Regions from separate parts of the Homo sapiens genome. Here region 1 is linked to region 2. Evidence: fine-mapped expression QTL. Tissue or cell type: whole blood. Region 2 holds a variant in brackets; the other region holds the start of a gene. All regions are shown on one strand. Distances are from middle to middle.

Evidence for each region. PIP is the estimated chance that this variant, and not a neighbour inherited with it, causes the effect.
Region 1: IL4R starts here. The variant in region 2 is fine-mapped to the expression of IL4R in whole blood (TOPMed, PIP above 0.99).

What each region holds. Positions count from the first base shown.
Region 1 is chr16:27,309,260-27,317,007 of GRCh38, forward strand. IL4R (interleukin 4 receptor) reads left to right here and starts at 4,715. Exons shown (of 11, transcript NM_000418.4): 1 at 4,715-4,761. RefSeq lists enhancers at 1,906-3,105, 3,928-4,658 and silencers at 4,436-4,735, 4,756-4,965, 5,406-5,455.
Region 2 is chr16:27,270,780-27,278,527 of GRCh38, forward strand. All of the region lies in intron 1 of NSMCE1-DT (NSMCE1 divergent transcript), which reads left to right. Among named protein-coding and RNA genes, the nearest start is that of NSMCE1, 5.9 kb to the left of the region's middle. RefSeq lists an enhancer at 875-1,423. The variant G/T (reference allele first, on the strand shown) is at 3,713.

The DNA.
Region 1 (7,748 bases), 38 kb after region 2:
CATCCATACAATAGGGCACTATTCAGCCACAAAAGAAATGAGGTGTGAAGCCTGGAAAAGACATTGAGGAACCTGAAAAGCATATTGCTAAGTAAAAGAAGTCAGTATTAAGAGACTACATACTTTCTGATTTCAATTACGTGACATTCTGAAAAAGGCAAAACTATGGAGACAGTAAAAAAATCAGTGGTTTCCAGAATCCAGGAAGAATAGGTAGAGAATTGGGGATTTTTAGGGAAGTAAAACTATTCTTTATTTTTTTCTTTTTTTTTTTAGAGACAGGGTCTCATTCTGTTGCCCAGGCTGGAGTGCAGTGGCATGATCATAGTTCACTGCAGCCTCGAACTCCTGGGCTCAAGGGATCCTCCTGCCTCAGCCTCTGAGTAGCTGGGACTACAGTGCACCACCATGCCTGGCCTGTTTTTTGTTGTTGTTGTTTGTTTGTGTTTTTTGGTAGAGACCGGGTCTTGCTATGTTGCCCAGGCTGGGAAACTATTCTTTTTGTTGCTACATGTGTGGATCCATGGCATTATACATTGTTAAGACCCAGAACTTGGCTGGGTGCATTGGCTCATGCCTGTAATCCCAACACTTTGGGAGGCCGAGGCTGGTGGATCACTTGAGGTCAGGAGTTCAAAACCAGCTTGGCCAGTATGGGGAAACTCCGTCTCTACTAAAAATACAAAAATTAGCCAGGCGTGCACCTGTAGTCCCAGCTACTTGGAAGGCTGAGGAGTGAGAATCGCTTGAACCTGGGAGGCACAGGTTGCAGTGAGTTGAGATCACGCCACTGTACCCCAGCCTGGGTGACAGAACAAGACTCTGTCTCAAAGAAAAAAAAAAGACTCAGAACTGTGCTGCAGAGGTTAGGCACAGTGGCTCATGCTTGTAATCCCAGCACTTTAGGAGGCTGAGATGGAAGGATAACTTCAGCTTAGGAGTCTGAGACCAGCTTGGGCAATGTAGCAAGACTGTCTCTAAAAGTATAAAAAAAAAAAAGCCTAGTGTGGTGGCATGTTCTTGTAGCCCAAGCTACTCAGAAGGCAGAAGCAGGAGGATCCCCTGAGTCCAGGAGTTCCAGGCTGCTCCAGCCTGGGCAACAGAGTGAGACCTTGTTTCCAAACAAGCAAACAAACACAAAACAAAACAAAACAAAACAAAACCCCGAGAAACAGTGAAACAATGTATGCTATGGACTTTAGTTTATAATAATGTATCAGCATTATAAGGAAGGCACTACACACTAATGCAAGATGTTGATAAAAGAGGAAATTTTGCATGGGGGAGAGGGATGTATGGGAACTCTCAGTACTATCGGCTCAATTTTTCCATAATCTACAATGGTTCTAAAAAATAAACTCTATTAGTTTTAAAGACCGAAAGGCTTGGAAACAAGTAAGCGTGTTAGGATATAATGAGGATTGAGCTTATACTGAGGCAAGACTTGGGAACCCCTAGATGGGGGAACAGAGGTTTTACTATCTTGGTGCCTTTGGACCTGCTCCCAGGACTGACGGAGCAGTCACAGATAAAGTCTGGGCATCTTGGGCAGGAACTTGAACAGTGGGACTGTATGCAAGAAGACATTTATTATCTCTCTTGCACCCGAGAACAATGCCCTGTTTTCTTTAACTTTGTAATTTGACATAATTTCAGACTGGCGGGAAAGTTGGGAGAAGAGTACAAAGAATTCCCGAAGTCTCTTCCCCCAGATTTCCTGAATGTCTTAGCCTCTGACCACAGCTGTGCTTTCTTTGCCTGTCTTCTCAATGCCACGTTCATCTCCATTTCACAACCAAGCAACAGACCAAGGCAACAGGCTTCGACTTTGCTTCTTTCTCATTTTCATCCTGATAAGAACAGCAATTGACATTTTGAATGCCTAATCCACGCCAGGCACTATTCTAGGCACTGCGATACGTACCTTGCCATTTCACCATTTCATAGCCCTATGAGGTGGGTCTATTATTATCCCCATTTTACAGATGGGGAAACTGAAGCACAGGGAGGATGATCTACTTTGCCCAAAGTCACATAGTCAATACGTAGCAGAGTTGGTATGCCAATGCCGGCAGTCTAGAGGCAAGCGAGGAAACCGACGAAGGATGACTTGACTGGGAAAACAGGATGGGAGCCCAGTTTGGGAGTCCAGGAGGGGATATAGCCCAAGCCATACATTCCCAAAGGACTTCAAAGGTAGACTTTTGCTGTCGTCTCCCGATGACATGGGGCACAAACTCAGAAACACAGACAGGACAAAGGCAGCTTGCAGGGCTGAACTGCCTGGGATGAAGCATCAACCGTGTGGGTGTGCGGATGTGTGAGTAATGAGTGTGAGGGAGTATGAGTGTGGACGGGAGTGGAAGTCACACCTAATCCAGAGGATTCCTATTCCTCCTGAAACCCAAGCTTCCAGGAAAGCCCTTCCTGTGGCCTTCTCTCCCTAGTCCTCTTAGCGTCTGCCTGGGCTGCCCCCAGTACGGGGTTTATTACACTCAATTGCTTACATCTGTTCACTTCAATTGCTTACGTCTGCTCACTTGTCAGTGCCCCAACCAGGTCCTCAGGGCTAGGAAGCAGGGGCTGGATCTATTTCTTGCTCTCCCTAGCCCCCAGCTCACGACTTGGCATATGGAGGCATCCACAAACAGATGCCGAAGGATGGGAGTTTTTCCACACTCCCACGCCACCTCCAGGTATTTGCTCATGCTGTCCCTTCCACCTGCATGTTTTTCTGCATTGATTCAGGCACTGGTCAGAGGTCACCTCCTCCAGGAAGCCATCCCTGACCCCAGGGAACTGACTTATCTTTACTGTCACTTCCGGGGGTGGGTTGGTGGCTGTCTTGCTCACTTGGTTGTAAGGTCTCAGAGGGCAGGGATTGTGTCTGTTTCATGTCTTCAGGTCTGCGTCATCAGCGCTTGTCACAAGGTTAGACACACAGTAGGACCAAGACAGACCAAGTACATGAAAGAATGATTGACATATGGGCCAGGCGTGGTGGCTCACACCTGTAATCCCAGCACTTCGGGAGGCAGAGGCAGGCAGATCACCTGAGGTCAGGAGTTTGATACCAGCCTGGCCAACATAGTGAAACCTCATGTCTACTAAAAATACAAAAATGAGCCGGACGTGGTGGTGCACGCTTGTAATTCCAGCTACTCAGGAGGCTGAGGCAGGAGAATTGCTTGAACTCAGGAAGTGGAGGTTGCAGTGAGCTGAGATCACCCACTGCACTCCAGCCTAGGCAATGGAATGAGACCCCATCTTCAAAAAAAAAAAAAGAATGATTGACGTGCAGTGGCCCCTGCCCTGGGAAGCCAACCCTCACCCTCCACCACAGCACTTGATCCCATTGGGCAGTCCTTGGCTTCCACCCTCAAACTGAGAGCTCCTTGAGGGCAGCAGGGGGTCAAATTACTCTCTGGGTTCTCAGCACTGCCCAGTGTGAGTCCAAATATCTCCCACCTCCCCTGTCTCCGCTCTTTCCTCACTCAGGGCTCCACAGCCATGCCGGCCTTCAGCAATTCCTCCTGCAGGCTGAGCTGGTTCCCACAGGGCCTTTGCACTAGCTCTTCCCTCTCCCTACACAAGTCTTCCCCCATAGGCTCTTCAGAGTCTCAGCTCAAATGGCCTCTACTCAAAAAGCCTCTTCCAGACCACCTGCCCCACTGGTCTAAGAGGTCCCTACTTTCTTCTTGGGCCCTCCTGACCTGAAATACTTTGTTGAGTGTTTTCCCCCCAGTCATCTGGCTGCATCCGGGTTCTTATGGTGTCCAGACGTTAATGGTCTATGGGGCCTGTGTTCGAATCCCAGCTCCACCCCTGCTCCTGCTTACCTGCAGAGTGATTCTGAGTTTCTTTCTTTTCTTTTTTAAAATTTTATAAATGTCAATTTTTGTAGATAGGGGTCTCGCTAACAGGGTTGCCCAGGCTGGTCTCGAACTATGGGGTTCAAGTGATCCTCCCGCCTCAGCTTCCCAAAGTGCTGGGATTACAGGCATGAGCCACTTTGCCCAACCCATTTTGAATTTCTTAAGGACTCTGTGCCTCAGTTTCCTGATTTGTAAAACCGGTGATAGTATCACTCCCTTATAGGGTAGTTGCCAGGATTGAACGAGTTAACATTTGCAGTGCCCGACAGATTGTACTAGTTACTGATTGAAGGGCTGTTTTACTATCCAAATGTGGCTGGAGTAGGAGTTGGGTAAACATTTATTGAAGAATGTGCAACCACTCTCACTTGGAAGCCGGGCTGTTAGGAAGGGGAGGAGGATTCCAGTCGCCCAGCCCTCCCCCACCAAACGCAACTGCCCCGGCGCAAAAGAGGCCGCGGAGGCCAGGCAGGAGCAGGTCCTGGAGGCCTGGTCGGCGTGGGCGTTTTATTCCGAGACCAAGGGGATCCACTGCAGAGTTCTCCGCTGGGCGTGACCTCGGGCTACGGCGTGGGAGGAAGCGCGCGGCAAGACACCCAGCGAGGTGCTGGGGTCGCCCCCAGGAGAGGACGGCGGCTCGGACTGTCCGGCGGCGGCGGCGGGGACAGCGACAGGGGCGCGAGGTGGCCGGGACCCGGGCCGGGCGCGCCGGGCGGGGCGGCGCATGCAAATCTGCCGGGCGCCGGGGCGGGGAGCAGGAAGCCGGGGCGGGCTGGGTCTCCGCGCCCAGGAAAGCCCCGCGCGGCGCGGGCCAGGGAAGGGCCACCCAGGGGTCCCCCACTTCCCGCTTGGGCGCCCGGACGGCGAATGGAGCAGGGGCGCGCAGGTAGGATCCGGGGCCCGCGCGCGGATCGGGTTGCGAAGGTATCGCCCGGGCACGCCGGCTGAGGGCGTTCGGGAAGGGCTCGGCCGCCGGCGGGGACCACGGGGACCACCCCGACTCCGAGCGGGGCCCGAGCCCGCGACTCTCGGTGCGCGCGGAGCAGCGCCCGGTTCCGTCCTTGCCGCCGAACGGCAGCGGAGGCGCGAGGCCCGGGGTACGTGGACACCCAGCGCTCCCCAAAGCCGGTGCTGGCAGTGAGACCTCCGCCGGGACGGCCTGCGGGGGTGGGGGGCTTGGGGTTAGGCTGTCGGAGGCCACGCAGCCCCTCTTCTCCGGGCAGTGGCGCCCAGCCCTGCGCTCAGGAAGTCAGTGAGGACTTCGGAGAGAGAAAGGGTGGGGAAAGTTCTGAGAACTGTAAATTTGAGTAGTAGGTCAGTGAATCGGGGCGGTCTCCGCCTCCGAATATCAGATGGACCCAATAATCGCGATCATTGACTGGGACTTGTTTTACTGAAAGGATGCCAAGTGAAACCTCCCACTAACTTCTCTGTGGCCGGTGCTGTGCGTCATGGACATTGTACAGATGAGGTCACCAAGACCCCAGCCGCTTTAGTAACTTGCCCTAAGGTGCCGCCCACTTGGGAGTCCGTGGGGCAGCAGGACTAGAGCCCAGGCAATCCCACGCCAGAGCCAGCTGCTCTCCATCTCTCAATCACGTTTGAGGAGCCCCCACAATAACCAGAATCTCCGGGAGATTTGCTTAAAATGCAGATTCCCAGGTCCTTGCCCTGAGATTCAGATTCAGTAAACCCAGGAATCTGATCTTTATTTTATTTTTAAAAATTTATTTTATAAAGATGGTGTCTCACTATGTTGTCCAGGCTGGCCTCAAGTGATCCTCCCACCTCGGCCTCCCAAAATGCTGGGATGACAGGTGTGAGCCACTGAGCCCTGATTTTTTTTTTAAACAAAATCTGGATTTCTTAGACTTAAGCAAGATAGGGGACCACTAGTTTGTCTGCTTCTGGGGTTCAAGGAATGCCCCCAGGCCAGCGCTAACCCTGCTCCAGTTCTAGTCTCTCCCCTTCCCCAGCCCTCTGGGAGGCATGACCCACTGCACTTCCCTGCCCCCAGTAGCCTATGAGGAGCCCAAGGCATTTGCTGGGACCTCAGTGCCTTTATCAAAATCCCAAAGTCCAATGGGGAAACAGGCTCAGGTGTAGGTTTGGCCAGGGTGTCCTGCACATTAGGGCATTCCAGGGTCCTGCAGGGGTTTCTTAGAACTCGGCTAGCCCAGCCCATGAATGGGAGGTGACCTGCTAAGCCACTCATTCACTCACTAGCACTCATTCAGCTCCTGCGAGGCCCTGGGTGGTGTTCTGGGCACTGGTGCTTGCCTCAAGGAGCACCCCCTCTGCAGGAAGACAGACGTGAGGGCTGGGAGGGTGCGGATGCACCAGCGGCTGCAGGACCACAAGCCAGAGGGGATCAGCTCTTCAAAGGTCACTGGGCCAGGCTTCCCAGCACCCAGGGACCCTGAGCTAGCCTTGTGAGTAGAGCAGGGGAGTCTGGCAGGTAGAGGATGGGAGGTAAAGGGAGGCACAGAGTGGGCGGAGGCTGGGAAGTGTGAAAGGGCACTGTGTACAGAACCTAGGGAGTAAGCAGAAGCCAGAGATGGATGGAAAGTTGGGCTGGGCTGCATTGTGGAAAGCCTTGAATGCCATGCCAAGGAACTTGGGCCAGTGTATTCACCTTGGCTTGAGTTGTAAAAGCAACAATGCAGATTCCTGGGCCCCACCCTGGGCCTCTGGATCTGAATCTGGAGGGAGACGCTGGGGAGGCAGCAGGGAGGAAAACCTGCAGTCACTCACCCCATTTACAACACATGCAGTTACCGGCAGGTCCGAGATAACCTAAGGGTTTCCAAATGCTAGGAAGTGACTCAATGACTGATATGTTTAATACAATACAATCCCGGTTGCAAAATGCCCAGGGCAAGGGTGGGGGTGTTCAGTTTTCTAATGCTCCCAGTTCAAAAAGGAGCTGAAATGAATTGTCAAAGAAGTGACAAGCTGGGCGCAGTGACTCACACCTGTAATCCCAGCACTTTGGGAGGCTGAGAGAGGATCGCTTGAACCCAGGAGTTTGAGACCAGCCTGGGCAACATAGTGAGATCCTGTTCCTACAAAAAAAATTTAAAAACTTAGCCAGGCGTGGTAGCAGGTGCCTCTAGCCCCAGCTATTTGGGAGGCTGAGGTGGGAGGATGGCTTGAGCCCAGGTGGTCAAGGCTGCAGTGAACTATGATTGTGCCACTGCACTGTAGCCTGGGTGACAGAGCGAGACTCTGTCTCAAAATAAACAAATACATAAATACATGAGAAGAGAGAACCTTTTCTACCTCCCCCATCTCCCTGCCCTCTTCCACCCACCCCATCTGGGACGATGGAGGAGAGCGTTTGGGATTAGATGCCCCACCTCTCGACTGCCCTCACTGGTACCTGGGAGTGAGGCCAGGACAGAAGCCGCCTAAGTACTGTTCTTCCTCACATTTGTAAAAGTGAACTTTCTTGAGGGTTGATGACATGTTTTATAAGCTACTTCACACAATGTCCAACACCCAGTGGGTCCACAATCAATGTATATGTCTGTTGTTACCTGTCAAAACGTATAGCTGGGGAGTGACAGTATGGACTTGAGCCAGATCACCCAGTGCAAATGCTGGCTTTGCTGCTTACTGTGTAACTGACTTCCCAGAGCCTCAGTTTCTGCATTTATGAGATTATAGTGACTATGCCATTGTAGTGATGACTAAATGAGTTAATATATGTCAAGCATACAAAACAGTACCTGGTATGTAGTACAAACTATGTATTTGTTAAATGAATACCTTTTTTTTTTTTTTAGAGCCATGGTCTCTCTCTATTTCCCAGGCTGGAGCACAGTGGCACAATCATAGCTCACTGTAGCATCCAATACCTGGGTTCAAGTA
Region 2 (7,748 bases):
GTTAGTCTACAAAGGCAGACCCGTTCCTAGGCAAGGAGGGGATTTGTTTTGGGAAAGGGCTATTATTGCCTTTGTTTCAAAGTTAAACTATAAACTAAGTTCTTTCCAACATTAATTCCACCTATGTCCAGGAATGATCAAGGACAGCTTGGAAGTTAGAAGCAAGATGGAGTCAGGCCAGATCTCTTTCACTATCATAATTTTCTCAGTTATGCTTTTTACAAAGGTGGTTTTGATTTTACATAAGGGACTTGAGCATCGAGAATTTTGGTATCCATGGGGACTAAGGTACCAATCCCTCACAGATACTAAGGGATGACTGAGCTCAAGTTTTCAGCTTCAGTTTGCTCATCTATAAAGCAGGTTTAATAATAACACTTTGTTGATAATGTTATTCTGAAGATTAAAGGAAGAGTAAACGTAAACTACTTAGAAGAGTGTCTCTGGCACATTGTAAGCCCTCAATAAGTGTGAACTAACACCACTAATAAGTTCTTTATAAACTGCCTAATAGGTAGTCAAATAAGAGGGGAAATAAAGCCCTAAGGAGTAATATTTGTGTTTTGTTTGCCCTACATGGTTTTGTGAAATTTTCTATTCATTATCAATATTTAAAGTTGGGGTTTTCAATCTTTGACTGGGCATGATGGCTCATTCCTGTAATTCCAACACTTTGGGAGGCCCAGCTGGGAGGATGGCTTGAGCTCAGAAGTTTGAGATCAGCCATGGCCAACATGGTGAGGCCCCCATCTCTACAAAAAAAATATATACGCGCGCGCGCACACACACACACACACACACACACACGCAAAAATTAGCCAGGCATGGTGGTGAACACCTGTGGTCCCAGCTACTCAAGAGGCTGAGGTGGGAGGACAGCTTGAGCCAAGGAGGAAGAGGTTGCAGTGAGCTGAGATTGCATCACTGCACTCCAGCCTGTGTGACAGAGCCAGACTCTGTCTCAAAAATAAATAAATAAACTTGGGACATTTCACATAAAACCCTACTGTAGCTGACTGCTCTGGAAAAGTGGGGAAGTCTGACGACAGTGGGCCAGCCTTCCCCCATGGCAGCACTTGTTCAGAACTTGGGAGAGACCGTCCCCTTTTGTGAAGCATGTGCTTCCCTGGTGTGTGGAGAGATAAAAGAATAGAAAACGCTGGGAACACCAGCATTTCAAGATCAAAGCGTCAAGAAAAAAAGGTAGAAAGAAAAGAAAGATTCAAGACTGAGGGGGTTGGTCTTTCACTTGAAGACCATAGAAGTGATGGAAGACCAGGAAGAAATGAGAGAAGGTTTGTATTTTAGAAAAAGAACTTGGGTATATCTATTCTTTTCAAACATGCTTGGAACATTTACAGAAATTGATTACTGGGCCACAAAGGAAGCTTCAAGAAATTCTCAAGAATCTATAGGTGACATTCATGAACCACATGCTGTGAAAGTGGCATCAGAGGCACATAGGAATACAGACTTTTGAGAAGGAGGGTGTGGTCAGAATCGTCAATGCTCTGGAGAGGTCGAGTAAGATGCGCCACTGATTTAGAATTTGATGGCCAACAAAGGCCATCTTAATAGAGAGGGGAGGAAGCCAGATCGAACTCCAAGAGTGAAGAGTGGAAGTTGAGGAAGTGGAGAGGGAATGCTGACTGCTCTTTTGGGAAGTATGGCTTCAGAAGGGAAGACTTGAAGACATAGGAGCAGAGATAATAATCCATAAAATAAAAACAGGCAGCCGGGTGCGGTGGCTCACGTCTGTAATCCCAGCACTTTGGCAGGCCGAGGCGGGTGGATCATGAGGTCAGGAGTTCGAGACCAGCCTGGCCAATATGGTAACACCCTGTCTCTACTAAAAATACAAAAATTAGCTGGGCATGGTGGTGCGTGCCTGTAGGCCCAGCTACTTGGGAGGCTGAGGCAGAAGAATCACTTAAACCCAGGAGGCAGAGGTTGCTGTGAGCTGAGATCGAGCCACTGTACTCCAGCCTGGGTGACAGAGTGAGATTCCATCTCAAAAAAAAAAAAAAAAAGAATTTGAGACTAGCCTGGCCAACATAGTGAGACCCCATCTCTACTAAAAATACAAAAAATTAGCCGGGCGTAGTGGCGCACACCTGTAGTCCCAGCTACTCTGGACGCTGAGGCAGGAGAATGTCTTGAACCCAGGAGGTGGAGGTTGCAGTGAGCCGAGACTGTGCCAGTGCACCCCAGCCTGGGCAACAGAGCAAGACTCTGTCTTAAAAAAAAAAAAAAAAACACCAAAAAAAAAACAGACAAAAAGGGATGGGGTCAAAGGTGTATAGCGACAGGATTACTGTTAACCTAGAGAAGAGAAGAGACACTTCTGAAACAGCAGGAAAAGAGGTGAAAGTGGCTAAAAAAAGCTCACTCCTGATGTTTTCCGTTTTCTCCGTAAGGTAGCAAACAGTATCAATCTTTGGCTGAAGAGGGCCTGGCGTGGTGGCTCACACTTGTAATCCCAGCACTTTGGGAGGCTGAGGTGGGAGGATTGCTTGAGATCAGGAGTTCGAGACCAGCCTGGGCAACACAGCAAGACCTCGTCTCTACAAAAAAAAAATTAAAAATTAGCCGAGTGTGGTGGCATGTGTCTGTAGTCCCAGCTACTTGAGAGGTTGAGGTGGGAGGATGGCTTGAGCCTGGGAGGTAGAGCCCAGGAGGTTGAGGCTACAGTTGAGGTTAAGGTTGAGGGATGGTGCCACTGCACACCAGCCTATCCCAAAAAAAGGTTGGGAGGTGCTGAGGAGATGCTAAGGGATTTAAGGGGAATGGATCAAAAGGTTTGGAAGAGACGCTGACGACAATGCAGAGATGAGTTCCTAGCTGAGGTTGAAACCAGAAATGTGTAGAGATGACAGTTGGTTATCTGATCCCTCCCTCAACACCCCCATCCCCATCCTGGGGGCTTCAGAGCAGAAGCTCAGCCTGGATTCATACTGAAGTGGGCCTTAGCTGGGGTTAAGCAACTGATTCATAGAAGGCCAAGTGACGGGAGAATGCTACTGTCAAGTGATCCACTATGGATCTGGCAAAAATAAAAAGAAGGGAAAGTGCTGACAAATTAAAATGGAAGCAGTACAGCAATCAGAGGCCTCTATGAGGTGAATCTCGTTCAGCAGGAACAAGTAGTGAGTAAGGATCGAAGTTCATCATGCAGAGTGGTCCCCCATGGGGTGACAGTCCTGCCTCAGTATGACTCAGAGGACGGCTCATTCCCTAGTGGGCTCTGTGAGTATTTATTGGGCCTTTGAAGTGCCAGACTTTGGACTCTCTATTCCTGGACAGCTCTGATGGTTCAGACTTCTCAAAGCTGACCCTAAAATGCATGAGAGCTATGAGTACATAAATTTGTTGACCACAAGGCGAGGGCCAAGGCCTTGGCTAGAGAGGAAGCTTCGGGAAATAATATGCTGAGGGTGTTGGTCTTTCACCCGAAGACCACAGAAGCTTATGAAAAGTAAGTGATGAGATCAGGCTTGTATTTTAGAAAAAAAAACTTTGGTATATCTATTCTTTACAGAAATTGACTATGTACTGGGCCACAAAGGAAGCTTAAATGAATTCCAAAGAATCTATAGACCACATTCACAAACCGCAATGTGGTAAAATTAAACATCAACAACAAAAAGAGAGCCAAAAAGGTGTAGATACAATACACCTTAAATTAGTAACTGCAGCTGCTTCTGAGGAAGGG[G/T]CCAGGAAGTCAGAATGAACTTTTTTTTTTAACCACGTACATCTATTACTTACGAATTTTTAAAAATTAAAAATTGGGCGGACGCACTGGCTCACGCCTGTAACCCCTGCACTTTGGGAGGCCAAGGCAGGTGGATCACCTGAGGTCAGGAGTTTGAGACCAGCCTGGACAACATGATGAAACCGCATCTCTACTGAAAATACAAAAAAATCAGCCAGGCATGGTGGTGAGTGCCTGTAATCCCAGCTACTCAGGAGGTTGAGGCAGGAGAATTCCTTGAACCCAGGAGGCAGAGGTTGCAGTGAGCCAAGATCGTGCCATTGTACTCCAGCCTGGGCAACAAGAGCAAAGCTCTGTCTCAAAAAAATAAAAATTAAAATTAAAATTAAAAATTATAAGCATATATTCGAGTTTTATTTCTTAAGTGAGGTGTTGAGTACAGGACCATGTACACAGGTATTATATTTTTTATATGTTGAAAGATTTTATCATACATTTTTAAAAGAAAAAGAACACATGTTTAGAAACTGAAAACATTCAGATTAAAAAGAAAACCAATATGGAAATTATAAAATATTTGGAAATAAATGACAATGAAAACCTGACATCATAAAACATGTGGGATCCAACTAAATAATTAGCTGGGCACGGGGTTCACGCCTGTAATCCCAGCACTTTGGGAGCCTGAGGTGGGCAGATCACCTGAGATCAGGAGTTCGAGACCAGCCTGGCCAACATGACAAAACCCCGTCCCTACTAAAAATACAAAAATTAGCCGGGCATGGTGGTGGATGCATGTAATCCCAGGTAATCAGCAGGCTGAGGCAGGAGAACCGCTTGAACCCTGGAGGCGGAGGCTGCAGTGACCTGAGATCACGCCACTGCGCTCCAGCCTGGGTGACAGAGCAAGACTCCATCTCAAAATAAAAATAATAATAATAATAATAATAATTAGAGGGGGACTTATAGCTTTATACTTCTTACAAAATAAGAAAAAATGTAAGGGAGTTAATTGTTAAAAGTTAGAAAAATAACAACTACAGAAACCCAGAGAAAGCAGAAGGAAGGAAATAAGAATGAAAAAGCAGAAATGAGTAAAACAAAGAACAAAAGAAAATGAAGTTGATTATAGAAGCCAAAAGCTGGTGTTCTCTTAATGACTAATAAAATAGAAAAACTTCATGTAAGATTGATCAAGAAAATCATACAAACAATACGATAAATGGCAAACTGAACATACCAGCTAGAGTAAAAATTTTAGAAAGCACAAAAGTATACCACAAACTTTATGCCAATACATTTGAAAAATTAGAAAAAAGGTAATTTTAACAAAAATAAAAATTACAAAACTTGACCCAAGAAGAAAAGTGTTAGGTTGGTGCAAAAGTAATTGAGGTTTTTGCCATTAAAAGTAATAATCACTAATGAAATCGAACTAGAAATATAGGATATGCTTCACCTCCTAAGATGTCCAGAACAAGTAAGTTTTACTGGAGTGATCAGCACACACAAAAAGACTATATTATGCAAAATTCACTGGAATATGAACAAGATAGAGAAAGCTATTCAACACATTCTGAGACTAGTTTAATTTTGACACCAAAAAGAGAACAGCAAAATTAAAGAAAATGTCAGGCTCATCTATATTACAAATATGTATTGAAAAAAATTCAGTCTACCAGTGTATCAAAAGAATATCTCTTCCAAAAGAGAAAATTCACATGGCCAAAAAATATGTGGGGACCAGGTGCAATAGCTCATGCCTGTAATCCCAGGATTTTGGGAGGCTGAGGCGGGTGGATCACTTGAGGTCAGGAGTTCGAGACAAGCCTGGCCAACATGGTGAAACCCCATCTCTCCTAAAAATACAAAAATTAGCTGGGCATGGTGGCAGGCACCTGTAGTCCCAGCTACTTGGGAGGCTGAGGTGGGAGAATCACTTGAACCTGGGAGGCAGAGGTTGCATTGAGCCAAGATCACACCACTGCACTCCAGCCTGGGTGATGGAGCTAGACTCCATATTAAAATATATATATATATATATTTATATATATGTATATTTATAAAATATATATTTAAATATAAATATAAAATATACATTTAAATATAAATATATATGGAAAGATGTTTAACCTCACTATTAGTTGGAAATAAAACAAGAAAAGGAAACCAACTTTTTCCCTATAAGAATGACAAAATGTGGTCAAGGGTAAAGAAAGACCAGTATTGTACGTATATGGTGGGGTTATAAATGTTGTATATAGCCCCTCTGGAGAGCTATTTGGTGTTACTGAAATTGAAAAAGCTTATCTAGCAATTCCACTTCTAGGAATTTAACTGAAGAAAATCTCCCATGTGTGCTTGAGATTTGCTGCAACAATGTGGTGGGAAAAAATGAAACGTCCTAAAGAGCCATTAATAAGGAAATCAAAAAGCAAGATAGTCATGTACCACGGGTGGTCATATAACATGAAAAGGAATGAATTAACTCACAAGTGTCTACATGAATGAATCCTGAAAGCATAGATAGAGTGGGGGAAAAGCAAGATATAAAGATGATACAGCAAGATCACCATTTATGCAAATTTGGAGCAGTGCAAAATGGCAATATTATAATTTGCCAGTAGATAAGCATATGCATATAAAACTATTTTCTATTTAAGGATTGAAAAGATTGTTATAAAGCTCAAGCTAGAGGGCCTCTAGGAAGGGGAAAGGAAGATTGGGATGGGAGAAGAGAATAAAGATCTTGAGGTTTATCTGGAATATTCTAATTTTATTTCTATTCATTTATTTTGAGCTGGAGTCTTGTTCTGTCACCCATGCTGGAGTGCAGTGACGCGATCTTGGCTCACTGCAACCTCTGCCTCCTAGGTTCAAGCGATTCTCCTGCCTCAGCCTCCCAAGTAGCTGGGACTACAGGTGCACGCCACCACACCCAGCTAATTTTTGTATTTTTAGTGGAGACGGGGTTTCCTCATGTTGGCCAGGCTGGTCTTGAACTCCTGACCTCAAGTAATCCGCCCACCTCAGCCTCCGAAAGTGGGATTATAGGCGTGAGCCACCGCTCCCAGCCTGGAGTATTCTAATTGTGAACTAAAATAATAAAACTATGTATTCATATAGCAATGAATTTAAGGATTGAAAAGATTTGAAAATTTAATTTTTCAAATATTGGCTTTAAAAAGGCGTTAAAGTCAAATATGCCAAAATGTTAACAGTGGTTAATGTTGGATGGTAGAAAAATGGACAACTGTCATTTTTTTCACTTTTACTTTTCTGTATTTGAAAACAAATTTCTGATAGGAGTGAAAATATGAAAAAAGAATTAAAAGTGTATTTTTGAAAAGTACATAGCAATGAATGGAGAAGAGAATGGAGACTAGAGACCGGGTTTTTCACAGCCCAGGTCAAGCCCTTTTCAGAGTCGTTTTCATCAGCATTTGTATACTACATCATTTTTGTTTCTTTTTTTATAAAGCTCAGCAGTGTGATAAATACATAATTTTTGGATTCATGAAATTTTAAGTTCAAGCCAGGTGCAGTGGCTCATGCCTGTAATCCCAGCACTTTGGGAGGCCAAGACAATTGGATCACGTGAGGTCAGGAGTTTGAGAACAACCTGGGCGAAACCCCATCTCTACTAAAAATACAAAAATACACACACACACACAAAATTAGCCAGGCATGGTGGCACATGCCTATAATCCCAGCTACTCAGGAGGCTGAGGCAGGAGAATCGCTTGAACCCAGGAGGCGGAGGTTGCAGTGAGCCGAGATGGCGCCACTGCACTCCAGCCTGGGCAAGAGTGAGATTCTGCCTCAAAAGAAAAAGAGAGGGAGGGAGGGAAAAGAAAAGAAAAGAAATTTTAAGTTCAATCTAGCAGAGGTGATGCGCGCAAGTTGGTAGGGAAAAAAAGGAAAATGATCGCCCTCTACTCATCACTCTTCTTAAAAGGAATGGTGACAGCTCCCAAAGGTCAATTTTAAAAACTGTCAATAGGCCGGCCGGGCACGGTGGCTCATGCCTGTAATC